Regions from separate parts of the Homo sapiens genome. Here region 1 is linked to region 2. Evidence: fine-mapped expression QTL. A gene starts in region 2. The other region holds a variant in brackets. All regions are shown on one strand. Distances are between the middles of the regions.

The links. PIP is the estimated chance that this variant, and not a neighbour inherited with it, causes the effect.
Region 1: its variant is the best candidate, but not a certain one, in a credible set for the expression of TLR2 in whole blood (INTERVAL, PIP 0.73).

The regions. Positions count from the first base shown.
Region 1 is chr4:153,703,575-153,720,353 of GRCh38, reverse strand. RNF175 (ring finger protein 175) reads left to right here. Exons shown (of 9, transcript NM_173662.4): 6 at 50-170; 7 at 4,692-4,825; 8 at 7,778-7,879; 9 at 9,865-10,194. The coding sequence ends at 9,985. It overlaps TLR2 (toll like receptor 2), which reads right to left. Exons shown (of 3, transcript NM_001318789.2): 3 at 14,094-16,779. The coding sequence ends at 15,092. It overlaps LOC105377499 (a long non-coding RNA gene), which reads right to left and starts at 56. Exons shown (of 2, transcript XR_007058334.1): 1 at 1-56. RefSeq lists an enhancer at 299-468. The variant C/T (reference allele first, on the strand shown) is at 8,668.
Region 2 is chr4:153,676,786-153,693,564 of GRCh38, reverse strand. TLR2 (toll like receptor 2) reads right to left here and starts at 9,285. Exons shown (of 3, transcript NM_001318789.2): 1 at 9,205-9,285; 2 at 5,518-5,663. It also overlaps the pseudogene LOC100419170. RefSeq lists silencers at 9,018-9,107, 9,388-9,567.

The DNA.
Region 1 (16,779 bases), 27 kb before region 2:
TTTGGAAATATGCCACATTCTTATTTCCTTATACTGTTGTTTTCAATAGAATCAAAGCTAGAGATTCCATGGATTTTGGCATTGTGTCTTTGTTCTACGGCCTCTACTATGGAGTAATGGGGAGAGACTTTGCCGAGATCTGCTCAGACTACATGGCTTCCACTATAGGGGTAAGTGTTGCTTTCATTTTCTGAAACCATGTATGACACAAAGAGAAATGGTCTCATCTTACATGTCTGCATCCATTTTCAGAAACAAATAAGTCTTTCTCCATATACTGATTATTGTTTCCTTTGGAACTCTTTTGGTTCACCTAGACCAATTGCTCCCTGGATTCTCCTTTCATCAAAAAATTCTTTGTTAATTAATTGGAAAATACATGTCTTATGTATATAGAATACTTGTGCAATAAGGCATCTTTTAAAATAAAATACGCAAATTATTTATGTTATTGTATCTAGCATACTCCAATTGCCAACATTTAAGGATTAGTAAAACATTAACAATAACTAAAACCTTTCAGCTCTGTCTGAAACCCTGCCTAATGCAAATAAAAACTATAGTTGATGATGCATAAAACAGTTCAGAATCAACAGTGCATCTGGGTAATACTTATTATAAATACCAGTCACATTATATAGCATCTGAAGAAGTAGAAGATATAAAAAGTATGCTAGATGTATTCTGACTCTATACTGTTACCTAGAATTTTTTTAATCCCTAACAGTTGTTTTTCTTTTCTTTTTTTGAACTCTTTTAAGACTAAAATTCAGAATGGACATACTTTGGAGTTAGATGTATTCCTGATTCAGATATCAGGGGCATTTATCTATGTCTGACTCTTGCATATCTTAAAAACTTACAAACTAAAGGCTCTAGGGATGACTTAGTAGTTTCAAGAATTCCACATCTCTGTCCTCTACATGTGTCTCCTGGTACACAGCCAGATGTGAAGTAGAAAAATCAGTGTAAAGCAAAGACATGGAAACAACCCATCAATGATAGACTGGAAAAAGAAAGTGTGGTACGTATACACCATGGAATACTATGCAGCCATAATAAAGAATGAGATAATGTCCTTTGCAGGGACTTGGATGGAGCTGGAAGCCATTATCCTCAGCAAACTAACACAGGAACAGAAAACTGAAGACTGCCTATTCTCACTTGTACATGGGAGCTGAACAATGAGAACACATGGACACAGAGAGGGGAACAACACACACTGGGGCCTATCGGGAGCGGGAGGGAGAGCATCAGGAAAAATAGCTAATGCATGTGGGTCTTAGTACCTAGCTGATGGGTTGACAGGTGCAGCAAACCACCATGGTACATGTTTACCTATGCAACAAACCTGCATGTGTATCCTGGAATTTTAAATTAAATTTAATTTTTTTAAAAAAAGAAAAAAACAGTGTAAGTAGCAAGAAAAGGGTGAACTTCTGGACTGCTCCCTCCATTTCTGGAGCAGGACCTAAGTGGCTATGACCTTGACTTCCTCCCCACAGCAATTGTCCATCCCCTCCACCATAGGCTCTATCTTACTCTTTTCCTAAAGCCTGCAGCCCAAATTCTGTGGTGAAATGCTGGTACAATACAACTGCCTTTCTTATAAGGTTTAATGTGAGCACAGGAAGGAGTATTTTTATTCCCAGTTTCTCCAAGAAAAAACAGAAGTTATACCCCTTGGAAAATTCCCAAAACCTCTTGTGTTTATGGACAGAAAAGGAAGATTAGAATTATATGTGGCTGTTCTCAAGTGGACCAAGAAGAAGAGACTTTACCTGGCAAGACAACCAAGTCTTTAAGCACCAGCTTTTGGGAAACTTCTCACCTGATCCAACCCGACCAGTTCTTAACATTTTGTCATCCTGTCTGTTTATTCCAGCGACCAAATCTATAAAAACCACTGCCTCAAGCCATTGGTACAGCCACCAGTGATTTGGATTAATAAGGGGTGTGTGTGTGTGTGTCCACAGACACTTGTGCATGTGCTTGTGACTGAGGTAAGGACATACAGTCTCCATTCCCGTATCAGTGCCTAAGCCCCACACCAAAGCAAGTAAATCAGAATCTCTGGGAGTAGATCCAGTGCATCTGCTTCAAAAAAAAAAAAAACAAACAAACAAACAAACAAACAAAAAAAACTCCTTAGGAAAGGAATGAGCTATTAAGCCATCCAAAACCATGGGGTGAATCTTAAATGCATGTTGCTGAGTGTGAGAAGCCAGTCTGAAAAGACTCCATCCTGTATGACTGCATTTATCTGACATTTTAGAAAAGGCGCAACTATAGAGTTGCTAAACAGATCCATGGTTGCCAAGGCTTTAGGGAAGGAGCGTGGTTGAATAGGTGAAGCACAGGAAATGTAGAGTGGTGAAACTCTTCTGTGTGATACGATAACGGTGGATATATAACACTATACATTTCTCAAAATCCATAGAAAGTGTGAACCTTAAATTTATGCAAATTTTAAAAATAATTTAGGAAGTCAGAGAATCCAAGGGTAGAATTCAGATCATGCCAAAAGAATCTAACCATATTACAAATGTATGAAATAATGTCATTGAAAGGGGTGGGAAAAAAGGTGCTGACCTAAGTAACTTTGAAATGAATGGAGATCATAAGACTAAAAACAAAAGAAACTGTGTCATAAGCACTGTACTCTAGTTGATAAAGTTATTGCTGTCAAGTCTATGGGTTAACAATTTTGATACCACCATACATGTATTCTGTAATTGTAATTGTTTAGCTTAATATAGATATACATGGATAGATATAGAAATATTTACAGATATGTATGTGTGTGTGTGTGTGTGTGTTTGTGTGTGTATCTGTGTGTGTGTGTTAGTATATACAGATGAATTCCTTGTTCTGTCAGCTAAGAGGTCCTAGGGGCAATGACACCCCAGCAACAATGAACATACATAGTGTCCAGATCTTGTTTTCTAATATCATTCTACAATAAAAGGAACTGGCACTCCTTGAAGAAATGGCTCATTATAGGTCTGGGCAAAGAATACACAATATAAGCCTGGAGCATCTCGTAGTGACCAAAAGCAAGAAAATGCTAAAAACAAAACAAAAGAACTCCACAGTGATTGGGGATATGTCAAAGAGACACAGGAGCCAACTGAAAGAGCTCCCAATGGCCAAAGCTGGAATTTGAGCAACAAAATAGTAATAGTAGTAGTATTGGGTTATAACCCAAAGCATAAATATCCATGAGTCCACATTGATATCAAATAAATGATTGAATAAATAAATAAGTGGAAGAGAATAGTCAAATCTGTGCAAAAGAATTCCACATAATTTATATAAATTCTCCTCCCTTAACGAGGTTGTGATGATTACATTTTAGAGTCAGTTTGCCTAGGCTATGATACCCACTTGTTTGGCAAAATCACTAGTCTACATGTTGATGCAAAGGTATTTTGCAGATATGATTAATATCTATAATCAATTGACTTTACCTGAAGGAGATTATCCTTAATATTCTACATAGACCTCAGCCAATCAGTCGAAGGCCTTAAAAGCAAAAACTGAGGCTTCCTAGAGAAAAAGGAGTTCTACCTCAAGACTGCAACATCAATCTTGCCAGAGTTTCCAGCCTGCTGGCCTGCCAACCTGCTCTGCAAATTTCTGACTTGCCCACAAATGTGTGGGCCAATTCCTTTAAATCAATCTAATAATAATATAGGGAAACTAGATATGTGGTATATAGCCAATCTCTGTAATATTTTTGTATCTTTTCTTTAAATCTAAAACTATTATAAAATAATTTTCTTTGGAAAAAAAAAAGCTTCCTAGGGATTCTAATATGCTGCCAATGTTGAGAACCACTCCTTATCCACAGTACGGGAAGATGCAGATATCCCAAAGTAAAGTTCTAAATGCATTGCCTTCTAATGGTGATTGCTCAGCATGCACCCAATAAAAACATGGGGATTTAAATGACGGAGAGATGCCTCGGTTTACTCCAGAGATCTGAATCAGAATCTCCAGGACAATAAAGGGAAGGGCCAATCTATGGATTAAACTCAAAGGCTTCCTCTGAAGCTTCCTCTTAACTCCAGCCCTGGATAAAAACGATTCCTGTGAAAGGATTCCTCAATGTGGAGGTTAGATGAGAAGTTATAATTGGCAATGTGCTTTGGGTCCCTTTGGAATTCAATGAGTTTTTGCCTGGAAACCTTAACCCCTCTGTAGCATTCTTCTTACAGGAAACGGTGTCTCACATTCTAAACTATCTTAGAAGCAGTGGAGATTCTTTTTTTTTTTTTTTTTTTTTTTGAGACAGAGTCTTGCTCTGTCACCCAGGCTAGAGTGCAGTGGCGCAATCTCAGCTCACTGCAACCTCCACCTCCCGGGTTCAACCGATTCTCCTGCCTCAGCCTCCCGAGTAGCTGGGATTACAGGCACCCACCACCGCACCTGGCTAATTTTTTTGTATTTTTAGTAGAGACAGGGTTTCACCCCGTTGGCCACGCTGGTCTCGAACTCCTGACCTTGTGATCCACCTGCCTCAGCCTCCCAAAGTGCTGGGATTACAGGCATGAGCCACCATGCCCGGCCGCAGTGGAGATTCTATGTGCCAAGGGCTGCCTGTCCCAGTGCCTGGCAGTGGCTTCCTGCATTCAGAGAGTGGCATGTGCTCTCCTTTCTGACTGTGCTCTGTCCATTTCCTCTGATAGTTCTACAGTGTCAGCCGGTTGCCTACAAGGAGCTTATCGGACAATATCTGTGCAGTCTGTGGGCAGAAGATCATTGTGGAGCTTGATGAAGAAGGGCTCATTGAAAACACCTACCAGCTTTCCTGTAATCATGTGTATCCTTTTCAAAGGAAATTGTTTGGGCTTCATCAAGCCTCCTTCTTTCCTCCTTCTCCTCCTCCTCCTCCTGTCCCCATCTCCTCCATCTTGCTTACCTTCCATGCCCAAACCCCAGTCCTTTATCCTCCAGCCCAGTCGAGTCTTCCTGTTTGTCCCTGCTGAATAATGAACTGCTAATTAAGGTGAACCTCCTCCTCCAGTAATTTCCTTTCTAAAGAGGACTGTTAATGCCACATAGACAGGAAGGCAGTATCTGAGCAGGGTGCTGGCAGGGGAAATTGGTTGAAGTCATAAGTGAGCAGATAGCCAACAAAGATCAGGGAAAGAAGGGGTTTGGAGGTGAGAAAAAGAGTGAAGTATCAGGTGCAGGGGGGAACTTAAGACTATCCAAGTGGAGCCCAAGGTCTGAATCTTAGCAGATCAAGAAATACAAAGAGTGCTTTGCCTAGAAATAATCCTAGGAACCTACCTGTGGCAACAGTAGTCTTGGGGGCAGCCAAGGGAGGAAACCAAGCCTTCTTCTCAGCTTCAGTCTTTAGAAGAAGATACAGCCACAGGCAGCAAGACACCTTGGATTACAAAAGCAGGGACCAAAATTTGGACATTTGTTCTTGGACCATGGGCTCCTCCACCAATGGGTTCTATCCCAAATAGCTATCCATTGGCTGAGGGATCTTCATATGATAGGTACCAGACAGCCTGAGCCTGGAAACCAGCATTCTATGTGAACTCCAGTAACCATTAAGGAAAGCCTCAATGTGCTGAAAAATGCTGGCATCGAGACCCCTGAACAAATCAACCTGTGTTGCCTGAACATGTATGGACACTACTTTTGCTATGGATACCAAAGTTAGGCTTAGGTTGGCCAATCATCAGTATTTTAATTCTTCCTAAATACAAAAAAGGGTATCATTTATCTTTATTTTATAGTACAGTATCAATTTAATAATGTCATCGCTATGTACCCAGTTAGTTCAAAGCTCTGGCATTATGAGATGGTTAAACCATCTGTCTTTTGCCTAAAGCCCACTTAATTTAGTCAGTCATACCTCGGTGTCCAGTACCTATGATTCAATTCTGTTTAATCTGGACAGTTTCCACTTATTCAATCCTGAAAGTAAAACCAGGACCAAATGCATCTCAAAAGTAATAGGAGCCTTTACTCCAATACATAAGCCTTAAAATCTTAAGGGAAGAAACACAAAGATACCCCATATGGATTTCTGTAGTGGTTTTTTCAGTGTGATACCTTTCCCAAAAAACTCATTCTTTGTAGCAATTTTCCAAGTCTGGCCCTAGTTTTAAATATGATTTATTTTTCAAATGTTGGAACAGAGCCCCTTCTGCCATTTGCAAATGGAAATGTTTTCTCTCTCCACCTTTAAAAGCCCTTAGGGATTGTTGTACATGTGTGCATATATAATCTAAAATGTAGTCACCTTTAAATTTGCTTTTCAGGGAGTATTATTAATGGCCCATTTTAGCATGAGTCATATTAGTGAGAAATGGGCAAATATGAGTCATATTAACAAGGATGGGTTATCTGAGTCTTGCTCTGCAGAAGTTCTGCCAGTGTGCAAGTTTTTCAGCATTGAGATTTTGAAAATGAAAAAGAACATTAGAGAGAATGTGGACATTTCTGTGCTGACTCAATGGCCCCTGAATTCTATACCTCTGTAGAAGATGGGGCTGTATTCCAGCCCTTTTGAATGAAAGGCTGTTTGAGTTTTGGTTCAAAATCTTCGTTATAATACACCACTTTATTTTAAAGCATATTGCAAAAATGACCCCAATTCCAAGAACATAAAATAATGGAAACTCCTGGTTACATTGAAATTTAATACTGAGGAGTTATATACATGGCCTTGACTTGCTACACCTCCAAGCTCCTCCATTTGTTAGGGAGGGAACTTCTACATCGTTGCTGTTCACCTGGGTGTGTAGCAGGCCAGTCAGAAGATCATGTGATCTTGGCCCAGAAAGTCACATTGGGAGCAGCGATTGTAGAAATAAACAAATCAGTAGGATGGATTTCATTATAGTTCATTTTGCCCAAATCCATAGTATCAGGGAACATGGAAATATATATTCCCAAAAATAATCAGTTTTGAAAGAGTCATTCAAATGTTCATTCAATAAATATTTCTTAGGCATGGCTTAAGGTGCTGAGGACACTGAAATGAATGAGACATAGTCCTACAGGTAACACATGGTCTAGGAGAAACATGTAAGTACCAAAAGTCCTGCTACACTAGAGTAAGTCCCTGGTGCTGTGAGAACACATAGGGTTCACTCAAGTTTGGGGACAAAGGGTCAGACTTTCTGGACCAGGAGACGTATACAAATGGATCTGTAAATGCCTAGAGTTTGAGAAGTTAAGTTTAGTAGGTATATATTCTATTAAAAATAATTGGCTCCTTATCAGTACTTTTAAAAGTCAAGAAAAAAAATTATGAAGTTAATGGAAATATTTGTAACTTTATGACCACAAATAATTTTAACTTGTCTAAGTGCCTAAGACAAGTCTGATTACATGAAGCTAAAGAATAATGCACAAAAAGTAGAACAGAGAAATGCTACGGTAAATGCCTGAGAAACGCACAATAACAAGGTGGGGAAATATAACAATACACTTATGGAAGACATCACTGTAAAGGAAAAAAAAAAAAAAGGACTCATATTCTTTATCTAATCTAATTCTTACCAGAATCAAGTGAGGCAAGAAGGCCAAGAAGCTAAGTAAATTCCTCAGGGTCATAAAGCGAAGGCAGCTGTGACTCCAGGCTCACTGTCATTGTCAGGTCCCTTACAGAACCTCCCGAAAAAAGCGATGTGCCTCATCAAGTCATGACTCCACCACTAGACCCTGAAGATGGGACCATTCCATGCCATCATGAACCAGACATTGCCTTTTCATATCTAGAAGCCTCCCTAACAAGATGCTTCAGCTTTCATGAATTCTGCATCCGAGGTTGGTGTATCGTTGGGAAAAAGCAGACTTGCCCTTACTGCAAAGAGAAAGTTGATTTGAAGAGGATGATCAGTAATCCATATCCTTTAAAACAAAAAGGTTATAAGAGATTATCTTGAATGTTTCTGGGGATATATTCTTCAATGAAAAGTTTCAGTGTTTTTGTATAGTTCCAGCAGAAAATTTTTTGTTTTCCCTAACCACCTATTTCAAAATGACTTATGGTCTCTTTTCTCCTCTGTGCCTATATTACTATTCTGGTTAGAAAGTTAAATGCCAGAAAACATTCCACTCTTTATGTTCTATATTTTCCACATTAAGGGCTGTAGTGGAAATGTGATGAGACACTGCAAAAAATAGGTAAAATATATGGAAGAATATTCAGGATGGATGGATGGATGAATAAATGAGTGAACTGGATGGGTGGGTAGATAGGTGCATAAATAGAAAAATTGGAATTGAAATTTTAAAAGCCGAAATGTGAACTAGAGTACAGAAAACTATTTTTAAAATATGTTAGGGTGTACCAAATTTTATTATTCCCAGAAATGAGTAGGTATTTCCCCGTCTGGATTTTGGCTTTTTAAATTCCATGCCATGCATCATCTCTTCTTAGGCCAAACACTAGTGATAACAATATTGAAAATAAATAAAGATTTACAGAGTTGATCAGCTTCTGGCAGCCACTGAGATTTGTATAGACATCAGAGGTGTGCAACAGAATAAATTCAAGTCACATTAAGGTCGCAGGAAGGTAATGGCCCCCATCAGGAGCTAACTAGAAAGACTTTGTCTTCAACCTCACTATCTCAAGACCATAGTATATCTCATTCAGGAAGCAGGGTGGGAATGGAATTAAAACATATC[C/T]TCCCTTAAGCAGAAGAGTCCTGAAAGGTTGGCATCAACCTGCCAAGTACCATCTCTTCTCTAAGAGACAGCCTTTCTGTACTTTCTAAGTAATAGCTAAATTTTACAATGCTAAAGGAATCACCTTCCTTGCTTCCTGCTCCCCTGTTCCTCACCAACCCTATACGTATGGTTTAACAATGGCTACTGGCAGCAATGCCCTCATCTCTGGGCACTGCAGATCAGGGAGGGATTCAAGGAGGGCATCAGAGAAGGAGGCAACATCAGTGGATCTTTGGGTCTCAAGGCCCATACCATTGCAAGAGACCACCCTCTGCAGTGCCCACTCCATCCACAGACCTGGCCTTTCTCGGTGAGTCAGTGCCACTCAAGCCCAACTCAAGGCTAAAAGTGTGTGATGATCCTTCCACCTTCCTGTTCATCCACTGTCCTGGAATTCCTCTTCTAAAATGAGGATACCAAGTCCAGAACAGTTTTTGGTTATTAACCTATAAAACCTCAATGCATAAATCTTTGTTATAAAATTGGTGATAATATGATCATAAATGTCACCTCAAGTGATACTTTAACAAAGGGTCATTCATTTCTTTATGTAGTCTTGAGAAAATAAACTGTTGAATAAAACATATACTACTCTTTTATTGAGACTCAATATAAGAAAAAACTACATGTGAAAAAGCTGTCATTTTGTTTGTAAAATTGTTGTCGGAGACACTATGCATTCATTAAGCTCCCTAGCACAGTTTATCAAAGACAGCAGAAAAAGGTCTCTCTTATCTGATGAACCAGTGTTATTCTTTGTAATATACAATGGGTTCATTCTAATGTATGACTACAGGAAAGCCCAGAGCTGTTTTTGCTCATTTAGAGCAGTTTCCACTATCCTTGGTTTTCCAATATAGTCATTCCCCTCTTCTTCCTTCTTTTAGCATATACCCTTGCCTTTGATTCTTGTTTTCTAGTTTGGGATTTTATTGTAAAGAACTTCAATTTATTTTCAGGAATTGGGTGTGGTGTAAGTAACAATGACAACCATAATGCTATAAAACTCACATAAGGGGCTTTTAATTGAGCACATAGAATTAACAAGAAAGGAAATACCCATTCATTACATTGTTTATTATATTTGCAAATGACATTTATGAATATTTCTGCTACTTGGCTGTATATAGAACAACCTCCTTAACTGAGATTTAGCTGGGAGCGCACACATTTTCTGTATGGACAAATCCTGGATTGGCTTCGTTATTTGGTGGCCTGGCAACCTGTGGTGATAGGAATAGTTCAAGGCATTATCTATTCACTAGGGCTGGAATAGGACAGCAGACCCCAGAAGCAACATACTGCATGGTTGAAATCCTTGGTCCAACATTTAATATTAATTTTTTTAATTTTAGAGATGATCCCAAGTGTTTAGAAAACTAAGTAAACTTTGTTGTCAAGCAATTTGTCCATGTGGAAAGAATTTAAAGAGAAGCTGAACAATGGAATAAACAAATAAAGCATGTTTTTTCATCTTTCCCATTACAGCTGTTTCTTAACTCATGCACATGTCACATTTGTTACACTGCACTGTGGACATTCTACTTCCAGTTTGACTGATAACAATATCTGTAAAGTGTTTCAGAGGTTTGCAAAGTACTTCTCACACACAACATTTAGCCATAGCTAATACTTTCTCATCAGTTCAACATCTTTAAAGTAGGTGGAGTCGTTAAGTAATCTATGGTCAAGGACATTGTGCTTGTCTTCTGCTCCATGTGCTTGTTACCATGTGGCAGCTTCTGCACCACAGAGCTCTTCTGTAGAAAGTGGGTTACTCCCAAAGCCTCTGGCAGCAGGTGCCACACCTTCTCAATGGGCCACAGGTACTTTGGGTTTCCTGGAGCTGCCAAAAGTGCTCAAACCCATGCAACAGCTGTACTAAAGCAAGAAGAATCACTTTTCTTTTGTTCCACTCTGCGTGCGCGTGCACACATACACGTGCACAGTCATTCCATTGTGGCACTCTGCTTTTATTTTCTTCATAGTACTTCTCAATACCCGAAATCCTATCATAAATTTATTGTCTTCTCCTCCATGAAGACAAGGAATTTTATGTTTTGTTCCCTACCATATCCCCTGCACTTTGAGCACTGCCTAGCACATAAGAGGCACTCAAAAAATATTTGCTGAAAGAGTAAATTAATCTGGCAGAAGGGAACAAAATTAACTGAATAGAGAAGACCAGTCAGAAAGAATTAACCCATGAATGATATGTTGGACTCTCAAAATTAATTTGTTTTGAATTACTGGTCATTTTTAAAATAGTCAACACTGTATACATTTAACACCAGACATCTACTCTGCAATACTTGAAGCCATTACAATTGTATGAAGTAGAAAGGAAATACAATGATTATTTTCCTTGTTCAGATATTGGCACTATACTTAATGCTATTCAAAGGTCCATCATTAAGATAACTCACACTACAATTTCTTACTGTTGAGAACTTTCCTCTTTCAAACTGCCCAATGCTTCAGTATTATTGAAATAGGTCAGGGTCCATTGTCTCATTGTCTAAGGTGTTATTTGAACTTATTGTGTCATGACTGAGAAAATTAAGGAGCATGAATGCAAAGGGTGAGGTTGGAGCAAAAGTTTAGTAAGTGAAAGAAGAAAGCTCTCCACAGTGGAGAGGAGAGCCCAAGTGGGGTGCCATTTTACAGCTGAATGCAAAAGCTTTTATAAGAAACTCCTCTCATCTCTGTAGCTGTTTGAGTAACTTCTCTTATTTGAAAACCTGTCTGCACAACTCCACCTACCTATACAGCTGTGAGATGTCTCTAGGTAAGCACAAAGCATAGTTTTTTCTTGTTTGAGTAATTGTGGGTTTCTTTTAGGTAAACCCCCTCTGTTTCCAGTGCAATCTCCCATGGATCCCCCCGTGTTCATATCTGAAAAGGGGAGAAAACATTTTCCTGGGAGCCTGCTAATCACACAAAGAACAAAAGGCTTCTGTGCTGGACCTTGCCTGCTTATCTGTGCAGGTACAGTCTGAGTTTTCCCCAGGCTGCTCTATTTTTGCCTGTAGCTGTGATTTTCCAGGCAGACTGCTTCTCTGAAGACTAGCCTTAGCTGTCTACCGAACTGATTTTTCATTTTCTCCTCTCTCATTATGATTGATTCAGCATCCAGATTATAGAATTTTTAATTGCTTATTTCTCTACTCTGAAAACATCCCAATAATTCAATACTTACTATATAGTAGGCATGTTCAAGGGGTAGGGAGATAAAACAAGATTCTTGAGCTTATAGTCTATTGACAAATAAAAGACTTCACATTTGGATAAAGCACTAACAAAAAATTAGTTTTTCTCCTGTTAAACAAAAAAAAGAACCCTTAAACTGATCTCTAATTTAGTTCCCACTTATCTTTTATGTATAGCCACAATGGCAGCTTTCAGAACCATTTAGAACTCTCGGCAAATAAGCCAGTATTTATCTGAATGGGATTCACAATGACCCTCAGAGTTCAGGAATGTCAGATAATCACTAAACAGCCTCAGAAAAAAATGAAGATGCCATTTTCTTTATAAAATTTAAGTATTTACAATCTAATCCCAATTTTGTAAAGTAGTGTGTATATGTACACTGAAAAAAGATTGGAGAGTATTATGGCTAATACTAGGTGTCAACTTGATTGGATTGAAAGATGCCTGGATAGCTGGTAAAGTATAGTTTCTGGTGTGTATGTGAGGGTGTTGCCAGAGGAGATTAACATTTGAGTCAGTGGACTAGGAAAGGAAGATCCACCTTTAATGTGAATAGGCACCACAACACCTCAGGTGATCCTCCCACCTCAGCCTCCCAAAGTGCTGGGATTACAGGCATAAGCCACCACGTCCGTCCTAAAGATTATTTTTTAAATATTATTTTAAATCTATCAATTATCTATGAAGCTATTTCAGTTGCTATTTTAAGTTCTTGAAATTAAACATAGATCGAGTCAATGTTAAATCTACCTTGTTCTCATAATTAACATGGAAACAGAGAAGTAAAGCAGAAAGTCCATTACTGTATTTGGTGTCTGTGGAATCTCAAGTTTCCTTCCTCTAAACTTGTTTTTCGTTTGTTTTGTTTCATTTTGTTTTTTTGAGACAGTGTCTTCCTCTGTCACCCAGGCTGGAGTGCAGTGGTGCAATCACAGCTCACTGCAGCCTGGACCTCCCGGGCTCAGGTGATCCTCCCACCTCAGCATCCCGAGTAGCTAGGACCAGAGGCACATGCCACCATGCCCTGCTAATATTTTGTATTTTTTGGTAGAGACAGGGTTTTGCCATGTTTCCCAGGCTGGTCTCCAACTCCTGGACTCAAGCAATCCTCCTGCCTTAGCCTCCCAAAGTGCTGGGATTACACCAAGCCTGATTTTTTTTAAGGCTGGCTACCGTTTCCTCCATAACACTCTTCTGGGAGGTCGTGTGAAACAGCAGCAGCCCTATGCGAGTTCCCCAAGGACAAGCTTGTTCTGCAGTTAATGAGCATATATTTCTTTGTGGTATTTTTCTGCAAACAGCAGGATCCCTTATATCCCTGCTAGTATCCATAACAGAAAAATATCCACTTACAAGCCATAATATATAAGGGAATGAAATATCTTCTTGGAAAATAATAATAATAGCTAACATCTACTACAGACATCACCCTCACCCCACACACGAACCCATAGTGCCCATTCTCTTAGGCGTGGTACTCTTGCCCTCAACACCCCTCCAGAGAAAATGGGAATCAAGGAGCTTAGGCTCATGGTTTACTTACATTCCTACATTTCATACTCTCAGTATCTTAGGATATAGAGATCATCATCCCTATTTTAAAGACAGAAAAACTTTTTGGGTCATGTCAACTGACTTGCCAAAGATTACACATCTACTAACCCAGGTCTTTCTGACTCTAGTGCCCAATTAACCACATACACCCAGTTCTGGTTGAGAATTGAGCAGGGGTCAAAGGCTCACTTCCTTTCACATGGTTCCCAGCTTAAGAAAGTTACATAGAATCAGCAAATAGTGCTTACCAAAGAAAGTTGCATCAAAATTTAATGTGTGGTATTATTATACCTAGATTGCAAAATTAACATATGGTAGTAGTATCTACCTTTAAATTACTGTGTATCAAACTATTTTTGAGTCATTATGAGGAAACTCTAGGTATATATTTGCTTAAAAATCTATTTAGCTCACATGTACTTTTTAAAATATTCAGAAGGGGAAAAAGGGCAGGCTTTTTTAGAATTAAAAACAAGACTTTTCGAAGAAGGAAAAAGCAACAAGATGCAGGAGATATAGGCTAAAAAACAGGAACTGAGAGTCAGAGTGATTGGACAATAACTAGAACTCAAAAGGTAGTTAGAGGCTGAGGAAGACCAGAGTCCGGATGTGGGAAGTGTCTTTCAAATTCTCCTAAACTGAGTATTTATTTTGTTAAATTACAGAAATACATAATTTACTGTACCTTGCACTGTGTACTCACTCTCTCAAGTAACTATGGCTGGAGAAACCTATCTAATAGCCAGAAAGACAGATCCAGATCACATGAAAATACACCCTCTAGTATTTCTCATCCTGTAAAGTTTAATAGGAAATACACAGCACTTTTTTCTAGGAATAGCAACAAGTTTTGGGGAGTGCCCCAAATACTTTGCCTTGTTGCTCTTGAGATCAGCTGCACAGAGAAGTGACAGCTAGGTAGGACAGAGAATGCCTTTTGTGGCCACAGAGGAGTCTCTTAGCAGGAAGAAAGAATGACACAGTCATTGAGAATCTTAAGTTCATTTGTGCTGTTTCCTAATGAACTAAGCCAGTTGCTACAGATTACAGTTGGCCCTCTATATCCATGGGTTCTGCATCCATGAAGTCAACCAACTGTGGATCAAAAGTATGTTTTAAAAATTTTGAAAATAAAAAATAACAATAATAATATAAATAAAAAGACAGTACAACTATTTACATAGTATTTACATTGTATTGGGTATCATAAGTAATCTAGAGATGATTTAAAGTATACAGGAGAATGTACACAGGTTATATGCAAATACTATGCCACTCTTATAAGGGACTTGATCATCTATGAATTTTGATATCCACGAGGATCCTGCAACCAATTCCCTTGGATACCAAGGGACTATATTCAGATATCAGTAATAGACTTATGATCATGGTTATCTCATAGAAAAAAGAAAAACCAAAAACCAATTTTTAAATCTGGCATATGTTTATAAAACAGCACCCCAGACAAAATTTGAAGTTTTGTAGTTTTAGTAAGCAAGTCCTCAAATGACGGTACATCCACGTAGTTTTTATATAATTATGTCTGAATGAACTTAACTATAACTAGTGACATAAAGATCCCAACTAGACAAAGACTGGTCTTAAATATGGGAACCTAGGACTTTATCGCAGCTCTCAGATTTACCCAAAATCCTTCCCGCTGAGCCTCGTCCATGGGCCACTCCAGGTAGGTCTTGGTGTTCATTATCTTCCGCAGCTTGCAGAAGCGCTGGGGAATGGCTTTTTTCTCAATGGGCTCCAGAAGAATGAGAATGGCAGCATCATTGTTCTCATCAAAAAGACGGAAATGGGAGAAGTCCAGTTCATACTTGCACCACTCACTCTTCACAAAGTTTTCAGAAAGCACAAAGACAGTTTTGTGGCTCTTTTCAATGGAGTCAATGATATTGTCAATGATCCACTTGCCAGGAATGAAGTCCCGCTTATGAAGACACAACTTGAAGGGGGGATTGAAGTTCTCCAGCTCCTGGACCATAAGGTTCTCCACCCAGTAGGCATCCCGCTCACTGTAAGAAACAAATGCATCATAGCAGATGTTCCTGCTGGGAGCTTTCCTGGGCTTCCTTTTGGCCTGGAGCCAGGCCCACATCATTTTCATATACCACAGGCCATGGAAACGGTGGCACAGGACCCCCGTGAGCAGGATCAGCAGGAACAGAGCACAGCACATGCCAGACACCAGTGCTGTCCTGTGACATTCCGACACCGAGAGGCGGACATCCTGAACCTGCTGGCCACGCACATGGGATGGAGAGTCACACAGGTAATTTGCTGGCCAATCAATCAAGACTTTGGCCAGTGCTTGCTGCTCCTGAGTGAAGGAGAGGAATTCACAGGAGCAAATGAAGTTATTGCCACCAGCTTCCAAAGTCTTCAGTGTGTGAAATGAGTCAAGTTGCTCCTTAGAAAACGTAGTTATTGCATTCCTACTGATTTTCAATACTAGTAACATGGGTAAGAGGGAGGCATCTGGTAGAGTCATCAACTTATTTCTGGAAATATAAAGTTCTTTGAGTTGCGGCAAATTCAAAGAAAATAAATTGAGATTGTTGTTGCTAACATCTAAAATTTCCAGTGTCTTGGGAATGCAGCCTGTTACACTGTGTATTCGTGTGCTGGATAAGTTCAAATATTTCATCTTTTCTGGCCACTGACAAGTTTCAGGCATAGAATGAAAACTATTCTTACTGATATCAATGTTAGTCAAGTTTTTCAGAGTGAGCAAAGTCTCTCCGGTTTTTTCCAATGATGCCAAATGATTTTGCCTTAAAATTAAAGTTTGTAGAGAGGGCCAGGCATCCTCACAGGCTGAATTTTTCAAGTATTCTTCAACCATCAAATTTTCACTGAGATCCAAGTATTCTAATGATTTTAAATGTTGTGAAAGTAAACAAGGAACCAGAAAAACTTTACTGTTTTCTACTGTGATTCTTTTAACTCTTTCTGTAAGTGAATATAAAGTGCTCAGATCATAAAATAAGTAAAACCTTGGAATATGCAGCCTCCGGATTGTTAACGTTTCCACTTTACCTGGATCTATAACTCTGTCATTATCAGATGCTCTAAAATTACCAACTCCATTAAGGGTACAGTCATCAAACTCTAATTCTAACAATCCAGAAATCTGATTCAAAAGTTTCATAACCTGAAACAAACTTTCATCGGTGATTTTCACATTTCTAAATGTAAACTTTTTAATCAATGAATTTGTTTCACCAGTGGATAGTTCTGAAAAATGGAAAGTGTCCAAATCAGTATCTCGCAGTTCCAAACATTCCACGG
Region 2 (16,779 bases):
CTCCAGATCTTTCTTTTCCAGAGGACACTGGGCAAAAAGTAGTCGCCCCAGTGACTGAGCAGCACCTCGAGCGACCACTCTCAGTTCTATTCAGCCAGGAATTCAGCAAGTTAGAAGAGAGGGTGATATAGAGGCTTAGCAGTTCCCTGTTAGAATATACCCCGTAGATCAACAGGGAAATATTATAGCTACATTTGAGCCTTTTCCTTTTAAATTACTCAAAGAATTTAAACAAGCTATTAATCCATATGGAACAGGTTCTCCTTTTGTAATGGGACTGTTAAAGAAGGTTGCTGTCTCCAGTCAGATGATGCCAGCGGGGATGGTAGGATTACTTCTAGGTAGGTCTAGTTTAAATTTAAAAGGCGTGCAAGTACAAACAGGAGTCATTGATTCAGATTACAAAGGGGAAATTCAAATTGTTATATCTACTTCTGTTCCCTGGAAAGCAGAGCCAGGAGAGCATATAGCACAGCTCCTGATTATGCCATATGTGGAAATGGGGAAAAGTGAAATTAAATGAACAGGAAGATTTGGAAGCACAAATAAACAAGGCAAAGCAGCTTATTGGGTGAATCAAATTACTGATAAACATCCTACTGGTGAAATAACTATTCAGGGAAAGAAATTTAAAAGTTTGGTAGATACAGGAGCGGACATTTCAATCATTTCTGTACAGCACTGGCCATCTGCATGGTCAATTCAACCTGCTCAATTTAACATAGTTGGAGTTGGTAAAGCCCTTAAAGTATATCAAAGTAGTTATATTTTGCATTGTGAAGGGCCCAATGGACAACCTGGGACTATACAAAAAATTATAACTTCTGTACCTATAAATTTATAGGGAAGAGATTTATTACAACAATGGGGATCACAAGTTCTAATTCCAGAATAATTATACAGCCCTCAAAGTCAACATATGATGCATGAAATGGGGTATGTCCCTGGTATGGGACTAGGAAAAAATTTGCAAGCTTTGAAGGAAATGCTTCAAGCGGAAAGACAAAGTTCCCACCAAGGTTTAGGATATCATTTTTGATGGTGGCCATTGTTAAGCCTCCAGAACCTATATACCTTTAAAATGGTTAACAGATAAGCCAATTTGGATAGCACAATGGCTGCTGAGTAAAGAGAAACTGGAGGCTTTAGAGGACTTAGTTGCTGAACAATTAGAAAAAGGACACATAGCTCAACATTTTCCCCTTGGAATTCTCCAGTTTTTGTAATTAAGAAAAAATCAGGTAAATGCAGAATGTTAACTGACTTAAGAGCCATTAATTCAGTTATACAACCTATGGGGACATTGCAGCCGGGACTGCCTTCTTCTGCTATGATTCCAAAAAATTGGCCTTTAATAGTCATAAATTTAAAAGACTGTTTCTTTACTATCCCCTTAGCTGAGCAAGGCTGTGAACTGTTTGCATTTACAATTCCTGCAGTAAAAAACCTGCAGCATACTAAAGCATTTGTATTGGAAAGTGTTGCTACAAGGCATGTGAAACAGTTCAAAAATTTGCCAGACTTATGAAGGGCAAGCAATTGAACCTACTCGTAAAAAATTTTCACAGTGTTACATTATTCATTATATGGATAATATACTTTGTGCTGCCCCCACTCAAGAAATATTACTCCAATGTTATGATCACTTGCAAAACTCGATTTCTCATGCCAGTTTAATTATATAGCTCCTGACAAAATTCAGACTACTACTCCTTACTCCTACTTGGGGACCTTAGTAAATGACACTACCATTGTGCCACAGAAAGTAACTATACGTAGGGATCAATTGAAAACATTAAATGACTTTCAAAAATTACTAGGGGACATTAATCGGATATGACCTGCTCTAGGCATTCCCACCTATGCCCTGAGTAATCTATTTTCTATCCTTAGAGGAGATCCTAGTCTCATTAGCCCTCAGCAATTAACAAAAGAAGCTGAGGCAGAGCTGCAGCTAATCAAAAAGCAAATCCATAAATCTCAAATAAATAGAATAGATCCAAAAAAGACCCTAGATTTGCTAATTTTTCCAACTCAGCATTCACTTACTGGTGTTATTGTATAAGAGCAAGACTTTGTACAGTGGCTTTTTCTTCCACATACTAATTCACAGACTCTAACTCCTTATTTGGATCAAATGGCTACGATGATAAGAAATGGGAGAATTCGGATTGTTAAATTACATGGATATGATCCTGGAAAAATTATTGTCCCTCTCACAAAGGCACAAATACAGCAAGCTTCTATAAATAGTCTTACTTGGCAAACCCATTTAGCTGACTTTGTGGGTATTCTTGATAATCATTTTCCTAAAATGAAATTATTTCAATTTTTGAAATTAACTAATTGGATTCTCCCCAAAATAACTAAATTTAAACCAACTGAAGGTGCTGAGAATGTTTTTACAGATGGGTCTTGTAATGGTAAAGCCTCTTATTCTGGATCAAAAGGTAAAGTTTTTCACACGCCCTATACTTCAGCTCAAAAAGTGGAGCTTTAGCTGTAATTGAGGTATTGACTGCTTTTGATATGCCTATTAATGTGATTTCTGATTCTTCCTATGTGGTTCATTCCATACAATTAATTGAAAATGCTCAGTTATGACTTCATACAGATGAACAACTGATGACTTTATTTACCCAATTGCAAACAGCATTTAGGAGTAGAATGCACCCTTTTTACATCACTCACATTAGGGCTCATACACCTCTTCCAGGACCTTTAACTGAAGGGAATCAAATGGCTGATCGCCTAGTTGCTACTGCAATATCTAATGCTAGACACTTTCACAATTTAACCCATGTTAATGCCTCTGGTCTCAAATGCAGATATAACAGTACCTGGAAAGAAGCTAAAGCTATTATCCAGTGATGCCCAACTTGCCAAATGGTGCATTCCTCATCTTTAACAGGAGGAGTTAATCCTCGAGGATTGGAACCTAATTATCTTTAGCAAATGGATGTCACACGTTCCCTCGTTTGGGAGACTAGCTTATGTACATGTATGTGTGGACACCTTTTCTCACTTTGTCTGGGCTACATGCCAATCAGGAGACTGCATGTGTTAAGCATCACCTTTTGCAGTGTTTTGTGGTGATAGGAATTCCAACTTCTGTTAAAACAGATAATGCCCCAGGCTATACTAGCCAAGCTCTAGCTACATTTTTCTCTATATGGAATATTAAACACATTACTGGCATCCCATATAATTCTCAAGGACAAACCATTGTAGAAAGAATGAATCTCTCCCTGAAACAGCAGTTGCAAAAGCAAAAAGGGGAAACAGGGATTACAGGACACCCCATATACAACTGAATCTAGCATTAATGACTTTAAATTTTTTGAGCCTGCCTAAAGGCCAGATGCTATCAGCAGCTGAAGAGCATCTACAGAAACCAGCTGCAAAAACAGAAGCAGAACAACTGGCTTGGTGCAGAGATCTGACAACAAAAAGTTGGGAAATAGGTAAAATAATAACTTGGGGTAGAGGTTATGCTTGTGTTTCTCCAGGCCAGAATCAATAGCTGATTTGGATACCATCAAGACACCTGAAACCTTATCATGAGCCAGATGCCAAGGAAGAGATTCTGGGAGGATCCCGAGGACCCTCTGGTTGCAGCCATGTCGAGACTGATGCTGAGGAGGACCCAAACTATCACGAGCAACAACCATCAAACACAGCCATCTACCTGGGGACAGATCAAGAAACTGCCATAGAGGGTGGAAGAAAACCTGAGGAAAGTGGGACAACCAGTCACAATGAGTAATTTAATGATAGCTATGATAGCAGTGATCACCATTGCCATTAGTATTCCTTCAACAAGGGCTAACACAGAGAACAATTATACTTATTGGGCATATTTATCAATCTTGGCTGGCAATAATGCCTGGATGTAATCATTCTATGACACAGTTACACATGCTTTCTGATCTCAGTATTTACCATAATAAATCTGTTTCTATAATTGAGGCATATTGCCCTCAAAAACCTATTTGTAAACAGAATTGGACCTGGCCAGAAATAATGAACATACTTGTTTGGGAAGATTGCATTGCAGAATAGGCAGAGGTGCTGCGCAGTGATTCCTATGGAATCATTATTGATTGGTCCCCTAAGGGGATGTTTAGCTTAAATTGCACCTCTCAGTCTGCGTGCCATGGCCACACTATGTTTAGCTGGTCTAAACAAAATGGTCAGATGGTAGAAATAGCAAGAAATATGGCAAGAGTTCCTATTATCTGGAAACATGATGGTATAGTGGCACCTCACCCTCAAATGATATGGCCCGCTGTAGGAGCTAAACATAAGGATTTGTGGAAACTATTAATGGCTCTTAAATAAGACCAAATTCAGGAAAGAATAAAAAAGCACCTAGAAGACACTCTACAAACTTGTCTTTCCATATTGCAATATTAAAAGAACAAATATTTAAAGCATTCCAGGCACACCAGACCTTAATGCCAGGAACTGGAGTGCTTGAAGGAGCTGCAGACAGATTAGCAGTGATTAACCCATTAAAATAGATAAAGACACTTGGAAGCTCTGTGATTTCAATGATGGTTGTGCTTTTAATCTGTGTTGTTTGTCTTTGTATAGTATGCATATGCGAATCCCGACTCCTGCAAGAAGTAGCTCACTGTGACAAAGCTGCCTTTGCTTTTATTGCTTTGCAAAACAAAAAAGGGGGACATGTGGGAACAGGCTCCCAAACCTGGCCATAAACTAGCCCCAGATTTGGCCATAAACAAAATCTCTGCAGCACTGTGACATGTTTGTGACAGCCATGACGCCCACGCTGAAGGTTGTGGGTTTACTGGAATGAGGGCAAGGAACACCTGGCCCACCCAGGGCAGAAAACCGCTTAACGTGTTCCTAAGCCACAACAATAGCATGAGCAATCTGTGCCTTAAGGACGTGTTCCTGCTGCAGACATCTAGCCAGAGCCTATCCCTTTGTTTCGGCCCATCCCTTTGTTTCCTGTAAGGAATACTTTTAGTTAATCTATAATCTATAGCGATAATGCTTATCACTGGCTTGCTGTCAGTAAATATGTGGGTAAATCTCTGTTAGGGGCTCTCAGCTCTGAAGGCTGTGAGTCCCCTGATTTCCCACTCCACACTCTACATTTCTGTGTGTGTGTCTTTGATTCCTCTAGCGCTGCTGGGTTAGGGTCTCCACGACCGAGCTGGTCTCAGCAGTCCATTGTAATTCTAAGTTACCTTTAGTAAGGCTCACACATTTCTCTAGAAAAGCACAGGTTCTTGGTCCATAATTCTTATAAATGAAATCGGCTGGAGTTGCAGATGGAGTTGTAGACTCCTTAAATCCAGATAAGCCCAGGATTCCCTGTCTTCTAGTAACCTTATCTACTTGAGGCCTCCTAGAGCACCAGTCCAGTTTCAGTTTCTTCACTGAATCCAATCCAATTCTGGAGCCAATCCATCAAAGAATTGCTCAAATAAAGTCAGAGAGCTGAAAATGCAAATGTATAGTGCTCAAGTCTGAGCAGGAACTTACCCACAACTACCAGTTGAAAGCAGTGAAAGAGCAATGGGCACAATGAGCCCCACAGGTACCTTCACTTGGTCACTAAGAGCTCCTGGGAGTCACTATAGGTCTCCTTTGGATCCTGCTTGCAACACCAAACACTGTTAAAAGAGAAACTTCAGACAAATTAAATTTGACAGAGTTTATTTTAGCAAAGAATGATTCATGAATCAGGCAGCACTCAGATTCACAAAAGTTTCAGAGAGCATCCAACAGTGTGAGCAGTGAGCTTTTATAGGCCAAACACAAGAGCATAGTAATCACCTGATTGGCTTCAGCTAGGAGTCTGCCTTATTTGGGTATGGTGTAATAGGCATTTACCTTGTTTGGGCATAGTCTGATCAGTTGGCTGCCTGTGATTGGCTAAAGCTTGGCTATTTATGATTTGGTGGAAATTTAGCTATTAATTACAAAAAAAAAGCTCCTAAGTTAGGTTTCAGTTTGTTTATGTAGTATACTAAATTAGGTTGCAGTTTATTATGTAAGAACTCAAAGTGTAGAGACAGTCTCAGGATAATGGCCTCCTGCTTATGTCATTTAACAAAAGAGAGGTCCTCAATTTTATTCCTTAGATGAGTTATTTGTACCAGCTTTTATTGTCTTGCCAGAGGTTCATCATTTTTATTAGCATTTTCAAAAAATCAACTTCTGACTTGATAGATCCCCTATTTTCTAGCACATTAATTTCTATTCTTATATTATTATTTCCCCTGTTCTGATTTCTCTGGATTTATTTTACTATTCCTTTTCCAGTTTTTAAGGTATTTGCTTGCTCATTCATTTTTCGTCACTCTTCATTTCTAATATATGCACTTAAGGTTGTAAGTTTCCTTTAAGCAACAGTTTAGGTGCATCTGACAAGTTTTTATATGTAATTTTTTTCATAAGTCATTAAAAATATTTTCTGATTTTCATTCTGATTATTTTTTGACCCATGGGTTATTTAGAAATTTACTAATTTCCAAATATATGAGAATTTTCTATAAGTTTTTCTGTTCTTTTCTACTTTAATTGCATTATGGTCAGAAGACATATTCTGTATGATTTAAATTCTTTAAAATGTATTGCAATTTACTCTATGAGCCAGTATATGGTCAGATTTTAAGTATGCTCTGTGATTTCAGCTGCTGTTGGAAGTAGTATAGGTTCCTTATGTGAACTACATTGTGTTCGCATTTTCTTTATCCTTATTGATTTTTGTCTGGTTTTTCTATCAGTTACTGAGAGATGTATGATAAAATCTCCCACTATGATTGTGGATTTTTCTATGAATTTTCTATTTTTCTAGTTCAGTCAATTTGGCTCTATTCTTTTTCTATTTTCTAGTTTCTTAATGTTGTTATAAGTACTTATAAATTCAAAATTTTTATTTCTTCTCAGTGAAACCTTTAACTTAGTGAAACGTTTATCTACAGTTATGATTTTTTTCCTAATTCTATTTTGTCTAATAGTAATATTGCCACAACAGCTTTCTTTTGATAAATGGTTGCATCTGTTCACTTTATACCTTTTAGTATCCATAAATGTGTCTCTTGTAAACAGCATATGATTGTTGGGTTGTTTTGAAGTCTAGTCTGATAATATTAGTCTGATTATCATAAAATTTAGTCTATCTCATTTAGTTACTGATGTATTAAATTGCATTTAATATAATTACTGACATTTTGGGCTTTAAAGTAATTGAACTATTGCTATGGTTTGAATGTGTGCCCCAAAGCTCATGTATTGGAAATTTCATCTTCAATGCAACAGTGTTGAGAGGTGGAATTTTTGTTTGTTTGTTTGTTTTGAGACAGAGTCTCGCTCTGTCACCCAGGCTGGAGTGCAGTGGCATGATCTCGGCTCACTGCGAGCTGAGAGGTGGAACCTTTTAAGAGGTGATTAGGTTATGAAGGCTGTACCCTCATAAATGGATTAATGTTATCACCAAGGGAGCAGTTTATTGTGAGAATGAGTTTGTTATAAAAGTAAGTTCTGTCCTCTCTTGCTCTCTCTCACCATGTGATGCTTTCCATCATGTTATAATGTAGCCAGATGACCCTCACCAGATGCAGCCCTTCAATCTTGGACTTCCCAGACTCCAGAACCATGAATGGATAAATTTCTGTTCTTTGTAAATTACCCAGTCTCAGGTATTTTGTTACAGCAGCACCCAAGGGACTGTGACAACTATGTACTTTATTCTTGTCCCATTTGTTTTATGTTCTATTGTCTCTCTTTTCTTGCCCTCTTTTAAATTTGGGGGTATTCCATTAGATTTTTTCTACTCTGTTAGTTTATCAATAAAACTGTACCCCAAAAAATTAACTGATAGCTTAGAAACCCCCAAAACATGCTGTCAACTTCTGGCAGTTTTTGTAAATGTAAAATGGGTACATTATAAAGAACTTAAAGATGTTCCTTGCTTAGAACAGGAAGAACCTTTAAAATATTGGTGAATAAATCATTTTCCAATAGTTTCTGCTCTTGCTTTTGTTGTTTGTTTGTTTTGTTTTGTGTTTTGTTGTTTGTTTGGTCTGTCCCTTCAAGTCAGGCCACCATAGCTACAGTTGCTCTTTGGTAAAAATCTTAATAACAGAGTCAAAAGATTAAAGTCATCTCAGCAAACTTTGAGTTGTCTACACCCAGATTACTCTCCTTCTCTTTCTCCGCCCCCACCCACCACTTCCAATCACCTCTTTCTCTCTCTTTCTCTCTCTTTCAAACAGGAAAAAGACTTTCCTGGCTTGCATTTAAGTTCTAAACACAAGTTCATATTTATAGAAGTTGAAGAAGTTGTAAAGGGCACTTCAAAGCATTCTTACTTGAAGGACTCGACTTTGCTTAAACGCTGTAAGTTGTTTTCTAATCAGAGACCTAACTCACACATCCTAAGAATGAAGGAACGCAGAGGTGGGGCGAAGCCTGCCAGGGAGCAGAGGTCAGACTTGGGTTAGGGAGCCAGGGTCCTGGACAGACCCAGAGCACGGAACCTTTCCCACCTCTGAGCCACGGTGACCAAAATCCAAGCTCCGTCCTAGCAGTAACCAGTGAGCGAGGACACACCCCCTGCCAGACGCTAGCTCGTTGAAAGCCTTTACCCAATCTTTGTCATCCGAGCCAAGAGGGGCCAGGAGGCGGGGAGAGCGACCCTACCGGGAATCAGGGAAGCGGGAGGGCCAGGCCGTGAGGGAAGCGGGAGGGCCGGGCCGGGGCCACCGCCCCCCTCGGCCTCCCGAGGGAGGTGGCGGCCAGAGGCCCGGAGCCCCAGCGGAAGCTCTCCGCGGCAACCCCCCCGGGGCCTGCAAGGTTGGAAGGGCGCTCAGCCCAGCCGCAGCCCATTGGCACTGCACGCGCGGGGTCCCGACCTCGGGCTCTGCAGGACCCTCGGGCTCCCTTTCCGTGTAGCCCCTGCTTCTCCCGAGGGCCGACCTGAGCCGGCTTCGCTGGTGTCCACATTCCCGCGCTGGGCCGTGCAAAGAAGCACCGGCGTCCCGGGGGCCTGGTGCGCTTCCCGCTATCCCCGCCCGGACAGGAGCTAGGGGCCCAGGTGCAGCCGAACGGGAGCCCGGGTTCCCCAGAGCCCGTGACCGGGCTGCGGCTCCCCTCCGCCCCTGCCCGACCCGACCCCAGGAAGGGGTGCAGAGAGACCACACGAGTGGGGAGCGCACGACGTACCTGGGAGAACTCCGAGCAGTCACCTGAGAGAACGCCGAGCAGCCGCCTGGCTGCGCTTTCTCGCTGCCTCCGAGCCGGCCTGCCCGGGACTAGGAAGTAAGCAAAAGGGAAAGTCCGCGCGGCCGGGCGCCCCCTCCTTCTGGGGTGCGGGAACCGCCCCTTCCACGGGGCACGTGCGCCGCTGCGCAGCCGGAGGGAACTCTGGACCTCGCGCTGAGTTCCAGGCAGGTGGCCCCGAGCGAGCCCCCGCGGCCGTGCTTCCCAGCAGGCTCCCGCCCTTGACCGTGAGCTAGGCTGCGACAGGCCAGAGGCGGGTCCTGCCCCGACAGCTGCCCCGTGCAAGGCTGGGTCGAAGAAGAGAGCTGGGGGCTTGGCGGAGGTTCCAGGTCAGAGAAAAGCGAATCGAGACGCTAGAGGCGGCCTGCGTGGGATTGGCAACCACAGGGAAAGCTAAGTGCCCAACCAGTATTTTCTTGAAGCTTCGGGCATCCAGGACCTCACATCACCTGAAACACACCGTCTTTAAATTCCACTCCTGATGCTTTTCCATCCATGGAAGCCCGAACTCAGGCTCATGAATCGTGCTTCTCCTTTCCCCACTTTTCCACACTCTATTCACCTGCCAGTACATCTCCAGGGTCCGCTTCCACCCAAAAGTCTATGCCCTCCTGCATTAAAATAGGTTCACCCTCCAGACTAACACAGAACGATTTTGCCTAAGGGAGCAGATAAGGACAGCCCCGGATTTTTTTCCCCAATCCAGTGACAGTCCCTACTGGTGCACCATCTCTAGCACCTACATTCCATCCCACTTCTCACCATGCAAAGATTTGGGCTTCCCACTTCTGTCTACAGTTTGAAGCTAAGCCCTTCCCTTGCCCCTATTCCATCCCTACTTCCCAAAGTAATACCAAAAACAGTCATTGATCAATTTTCTTCATTGCCACAGAACCTAGCTGTCTCCACGGTTAGGAATATGTATAAGGGAAGAAAACAAGCTTTTAAAATTCAACTGCCTTAATGTTAATAATCTACCTTTTATGTTCATAATTACATTTGATTTTCACAAAGTGAGATATGAAGCAGAGCAAGCATCCTTGTTCCTCCCTTACACAAGAAAATGTCATGTGAATTGTATAACATATGACAGAACTGAGATTTGAAACCAGAATTTTACCTTAAATCCAGGGCTGTTTCTCCTACCCTGTTCCACATCCCTAATCCTCTCTGATGGTTGGAACATCAGGGAAACTTAATCAATAGACCTAAATATGAAATTGAGAGGTTTTTGTATACAGGTCACTATCTTACTATTTTTCTTTATCCTGACCATCAGGTTGTCCAGCTGGCTGAAAATGCTTTCTTATTAATTCCAAATCTCCAGCTCTCTACCTTGTGATTTCTGACAAAAGAAAACTTCCTTCAAATTATTTCTCCTGAAACTAAAAACTTGTTTTTTCTCTATTTCTCTTCCCTAGTTGAACTGCCTAAGGTGGATTTTGATGCTATTGCTCTATAATCCCAAAGTCAATTAGAATTGTCTGGCAAAGTCAGATAGAAATCATTTATTTAGCCACAAATCAGTGTCCTCTGCATATATTGAAGGTAGTTGTACACTGTCCACAAAGCTATTAGCACGTCCAATTCAGACACAGTCCTTATACTTGTTCAGTTCTTGACATTTTCTTTTTTTTTTTTTTTTTTTCTGAGATGGAGTCTCGTTTTGTCACCCAGGCTGGAGTGCAGTGGTGCAATCTCATCTCACTGCAGTCTCCACCTCCCAGATTCAAGCAATTCTCTGCCTCAGCCTCCCAAGTAGGTGGGATTACAGGTGCGTGCCACCACGCCTGGCTAATTTTTGTATTTTTGGTAGAGACAGGGTTTTGCTATGTTGACCAGGCTGGTCTTGAACTCCTGGCACCAAGTGATCCACCAGCCTAGGCCTCCCAAAGTGCTGGGATTACAGGTGTGAGCCACAGCACCCGGCCTAGTTCTTGACATTTTTGAAGCACCTTCACATCTAGAATTTCATCTGAATCTTACAATAACACATGCAATAAATAATTCTGATATTACTATTCCTTTGGTTAAAGTGATTAGGGAACTTGCCCAGAGTCGCATGGCTCACAGTTAACATGTGGCAAATCCCAGGTTAGACTCCAAGTCTCCTTCTGTATCTAGATATAAGACCTCCTATAACTCTCTACCAAAAAAAAGAAAAATGTTGATTAAAGTTAGAAAATCAACACGGCATATGAAATGTACTAATATTTGGGGAAAGGGTAACTTTCATTGTATATATTCATAGTTTTGAGCATCTAACTGAAATCCTAAGCTGTTATCTGAAAGTTATCCGAAAACACAAGGCCAGCGTGGTGGTTCACACCTGTAATCCCGGCACTTTGGGAGCCCAAGACAGGAGGATCTTGAGTCCAGGAGTTTGAGACCAGCCTGGGCAAAACAGGGAGACCCCCATCTCTACAAAAATTCAAAAATTAGCCAGGCATGATGGTTTGTAGCTGTAACCCCAGCTACTCAGGAGGCTGAGGTTGGAGGATCGTTTGAGTCCAGTGTGTTGAGGCTGGGAGATAAGAGTGAGACTCTGTTTCGAAAAAACAAAACAAAACACACAGTCTATGTCTTTTTCACATAAAGTATATTGTAATTGTCAGATGAAATAATAAGAAACTCATCCACCGAAAACCACTTAATGAAAATATGCCATAAATCCTGCATTATTTTACAGATCTTTATACATGAACATACATTCTTCAAAATTTTTTTACTCTGCACAGATGTCCGTATGTCCGTAATTTTTTAAGACATTTCAAAAATATTGCCTATGCAAAATAATAGTAGTAAACTTCTAAGTTAACATAGAACCAAGTTCTGAAAACAGAATATTTCATGTTGTATATATTTCCCTTTTAAAAACTAGGAGTTTTTTTTTTTTTTTTTTTTTGTGGGCTCCTGCGGGCCAGGGGACTGAGGCAAGCACCTTGGAGCTGAGCCATAGAAATCAGATCAAAAAGTGTGTTGGAATGAGTAGATGGACAGAATGAATTATGGGGAAGAGGGAACTGCACTCTTCAAAGGTCCCAGCCAGAAGTGGGGCTGGGGGCTGGGGGCAGGGGAAGGGAGCAGGAGGCATGATGACTCCCAAGCTCATTTTTCTTTTTTTTGATATGTTTTATTTATTATTATTATACTTTAAGTTCTAGGGTACATGTGCACAACGTGCAGGTTAGTTACATATGTATACATGTGCCATGTTGGTGTGCTGCACCCATTAACTCGTCATTCACATTAGGTATTTCTCCTAATGCTACCCCTCCCCCAGCCCCCCACCCCACGTTAGGCCCTGGTGTGTGATGTTCCCCACCCTGTGTCCAGGTGGGAATTGTTCAATTCCCACCTATGAGTGAGAACATGCAGTGTTTGGTTTTTTGTCCTTGTGATAGTTTGCTCATAATGATGGTTTCCAGCTTCATCCATGTCCCTACAAAGGACATGAACTCATCCTTTTTTATGGCTGCATAGTATTCCATGGTGTATATGTGCCACATTTTCTTAATCCAGTCTATCATTGATGGACGTTTGGGTTGGTTCCAAGTCTTTGTTATTGTGAATAGTACCGCAATAAACATACGTGTGCATGTGTCTTTATAGTAGCATGATTTATAATCCTTTGGGTATATACCCAGTAATGGGATGGCTGGGTCAAATGGTATTTCTAGTTCTAGATCCTTGAGGAATCACCACTGTCTTCCACAATGGTCGAACTAAAAACTAGGAGTTTTCTTTAACTAAAACCCTTCCCGCTGAGCTTCATTAGTGGCCACTCCAGGCAGGTCTAGGTGTTAATTATCTTCTGCAGCTTAACAGAAATGCTGGGGAATGATCCTAGCCATAGACTGAAGGCCTGTGTCCTCCTGAAATTCATCTGTTGAAATCCTAACCCCCAATGTGAGGTACTGGAGGTGGGCCCTTTGATGAGTGATTAGGTCATGGGGGCAGAAGCTTCATGAATGGGATTAGTTCCCTTCCAAAAGAAACTTCAGAGAGTTCCCTCACCCCTTCCACCACCAAGAACACAGTGAGAAGACAGCTATCTTTGAGCCTGGAAGAGTTCCTCACCAGATACCAAATCTGCCAACACCTTGATCTTGGACTTCCCAGCCTCTAGATCTGTGAGAAATGAATTTCTCTTATCTATAAACTACCCAGTCTATTGGCATTTTTGCTATAGCAGCCCAGATTGACTAAGGCAAATGGCTTCTTAATGGGCTCCAGAAGAATGAGAATGGCAGCATCACTGTTCTCATCAAAAAGACGGAAATGGGAGAAGTCCAGTTCCTTCTTGCACCACTCACTCTTCACAAAGTTTTCAGAAAGCACAAAGACAGTTTTGTGTCTCTTTTCAATGGAGTCAATGATATTGTCAATGATCCACTTGCCAGGAATGAAGTCCCACTTATGAAGACACAACTTGAAGAGGGGATTGAAGTTCTCCAGCTCCTGGACCATAAGGTTCTCCACCCAGTAGGCATCCTGCTCACTATAAGAAACAAATGCGTCATAGCAGATGTCCCTGCTGCAAGCTTTCCTGTGCTTCCTTTTGGCCTAGAGCCAGGCCCACATCATTTTCATGTACCACGGGCTGTGGAAACAGTGGCACAGAACCCCCATGGGCAGGATCAGCAGGAACAGGGCACAGCACATGCCAGACACCAGTGCCACCCTGTGGCACTCCGACACCAAAAGGCAGACGTCCTGAACCTGTTGGCCACACACGTGGGATGGAGAGTCACACAGGTAGTTTGCTGGCCAACCGATAAGAACTTTGGCCAGTGCTTGCTGCTCCTGAGTGAAGGAGAGGAATTCACAGGAGCAAATGAAGTTGTTGCCACCAGCTTCCAAAGTCTTCAGTGTGTGAAAAGAGTCAAGTTGCCCTTTAGAGAAAGTTTTCTTTTCCTGCTTCTTCTCAAAGGGGAAGAAAGCATCTGGTAGGGTCTTCAACACATATCTGAAAATGTAAAGTTATTTAAATTGCAGCTAAATAAAAGTTTACAAGGCTCACTTCTAGTAAGCCTCGTGTCTGGGAAACAATTGGTTAAATTGTGAATTTTTGTGTTAGATAAGTTCAAGTATTCTTCCCTTTCTGACCATTGATAAGTGATATGTAAAGAACCAAGTATATGCTGACCAAGATCAAGGTTAGTCAGTTTTTCTAGAGTTAAGCAGCATTTTCCAGAACTTGCAGATTATTTAGCATGAAATTCAAGGTGTATAGGGAGCTTCAGGCTTCCTTATGGACTGAATACTTCAATTATTCTTCAAACATCAATTTTTCACTGAGATCTAAGAATCCTGATGATTTTGAATGTTGCAACAGAGGATATGCTATTAAGCAGATCTTGACACTTTCAACCTGAAGATCTTTAGTCAATACAAAAGTAGAAGCATGTCTTTAAAATTTTGTCATCATTGAAAATTCCTGTAGCTGAGCTCTGTTTTATTACAGTTTCTATTGGACGTGGTCTTTTCGTGGGATCTCAGCCATCTCATCTTCCATTTTCCTGAACTACATAGGCTTCCAGCTTTACCTCCAACAAGTGATTTGCAAATGCTCTCATTTGATTGCTTCAGCTTATCTTAATATTAGTTTTTTCACAATGAGCCTGACTATAAGGTCCTTTTTTCTTCCTTTTATCTCATATGAAGAACAGTGTTTCCCGCTTCCAAATACTTTTAGAAACTTGAAAGATCAAACAAAACGTCTCAGAGTAAAGTTGACTGCTTCATATGTCAGCTCAAGTGACTGATCTACATTTATTTCAGGCTTTTTAGTTCATATCTCTGGGGATTGGAAACATAAATTTTAAATTAGTTCAGAACAGAAAGTTGGTAAAATATCCTGTTGTTTTTAATTTAGAGAACTTATATATATTTCATGAATTTAAATTTGGGAAAATGGAAAAAGAGAGAAGGAAACATTTCCTCAAGTCTCTGTTGGACTATCCCAGAAGTAAAGAGTCAGACTGTGAGGATGATAGACAAGGTTAGTTGTTAAAGGATAGATCCAAATGCACAAGGCTCCCGAAGACAAGGCAAGTAGTTTTCACCTGTTGTAAGAATTCTGTCAGGCTATAGAAAAGGTGCTTCCAGATTCACACACATCTGCTAAGTATGACTGGATGTAAATCCCATGGGGCAGGGATTTTGTTTTCTTTTATGCACTGAACTATTCTCATCCCCAATAGCATGGCTGGCACTCAATGAATACTTGTTGAGTGGTGGATTGCCTTGCCTTTTCAGAATATGGGCTAGACCTGGAGGAATGGAGTATAAACATCTGAAGTGGCCATTGCAGAGACAAGACTTCAGGGGAAAGAAGCCTAGACCAGGCCCCTTGTCTTGACTGACATCTTGCCTCCACCACACAAGAGCTGACTTCATTTAAAGATGGGAATGAAGAAATATAGTGCACTATTTTCACCCACATAGTCAAGCAAAACCATGAGTGACTGATATCATTTTAATATATATAAGGGTTATATGGCCTTTCAGACCACTTCAGAGAAGAATATGAAAAGAAGGTAGAATTTTATCAAGTTCTAACTTATTTGGAGCACCTTGAAAAATGTACTAAAATATCTTAGCCTGGTTCACGCCTGTAATCCCAACACTTTGGGAAGCCAAGGCAGGTGGACCACCTGAGGTCAGGAGTTTGAAACCAGCCTGGCCAACATGGTGAAACCCCATCTCTACTGAAAATACAAAATTAGCTGGGTGTGGCAGTACCCGCCTGTATTCCCAGCTACTTGGGAGGCTGATACAGGATAATCACTTGAACCTAAGAGGCGGAGGCTGCAGTGAGCTGAGATCATGCCACTGCACTCCAGCCTGGGCAAGACAGAGTTGAGACTCCATCTCTCTCAATCTCTCTCTCTCTATATATATAATATAGATATATATCTATATATCTATATATATATCTTAGCCAAATAACTGCTGAGTCCAACTTTGTGGTATGCCAGTCTGTGTAGGGGTTGCCAACTTCCATGTAGTTGGAAAAACAATGAGTCATGATATGATTCAAAGTCAGGAATATAAGCTGTGTAACCACTGTTTTCTTTTCATTCAGTTTCTATTATTAAGTATAACTAGAGCTCAGTGTGTACTGGTCAGGGTCACAGACAAGACTACTGTCAGCTTCTCAGCCAATATTGCTGGCCAAGTATCTAAGAAGGAATTCCCCAAATTACATACAATGATGTAATCGTTTCCTATGGGTGTGTAAGAATCTTTCAAAGCCTGCAAGGTTTTTGTCCTATTGGGCACTTAGATGGACAGTCTTACTTACTCCAAAAAGTTTCTAGGTGCAACCTCTGGAAGATGTATAATTAGTATTTATATTAATATTTTGTGTTAAAGAATTGGTGGATACTTGATTTTTTAAGACTTGTCATGTTTAAAAGAATTTGGCCTATGAGAGTCGCTTATCATAGCGACTTAAAGTGTATACTTTGGAGAATTTCAGTTCCAAAATGGTGGCATACTGGCTTCATTTCC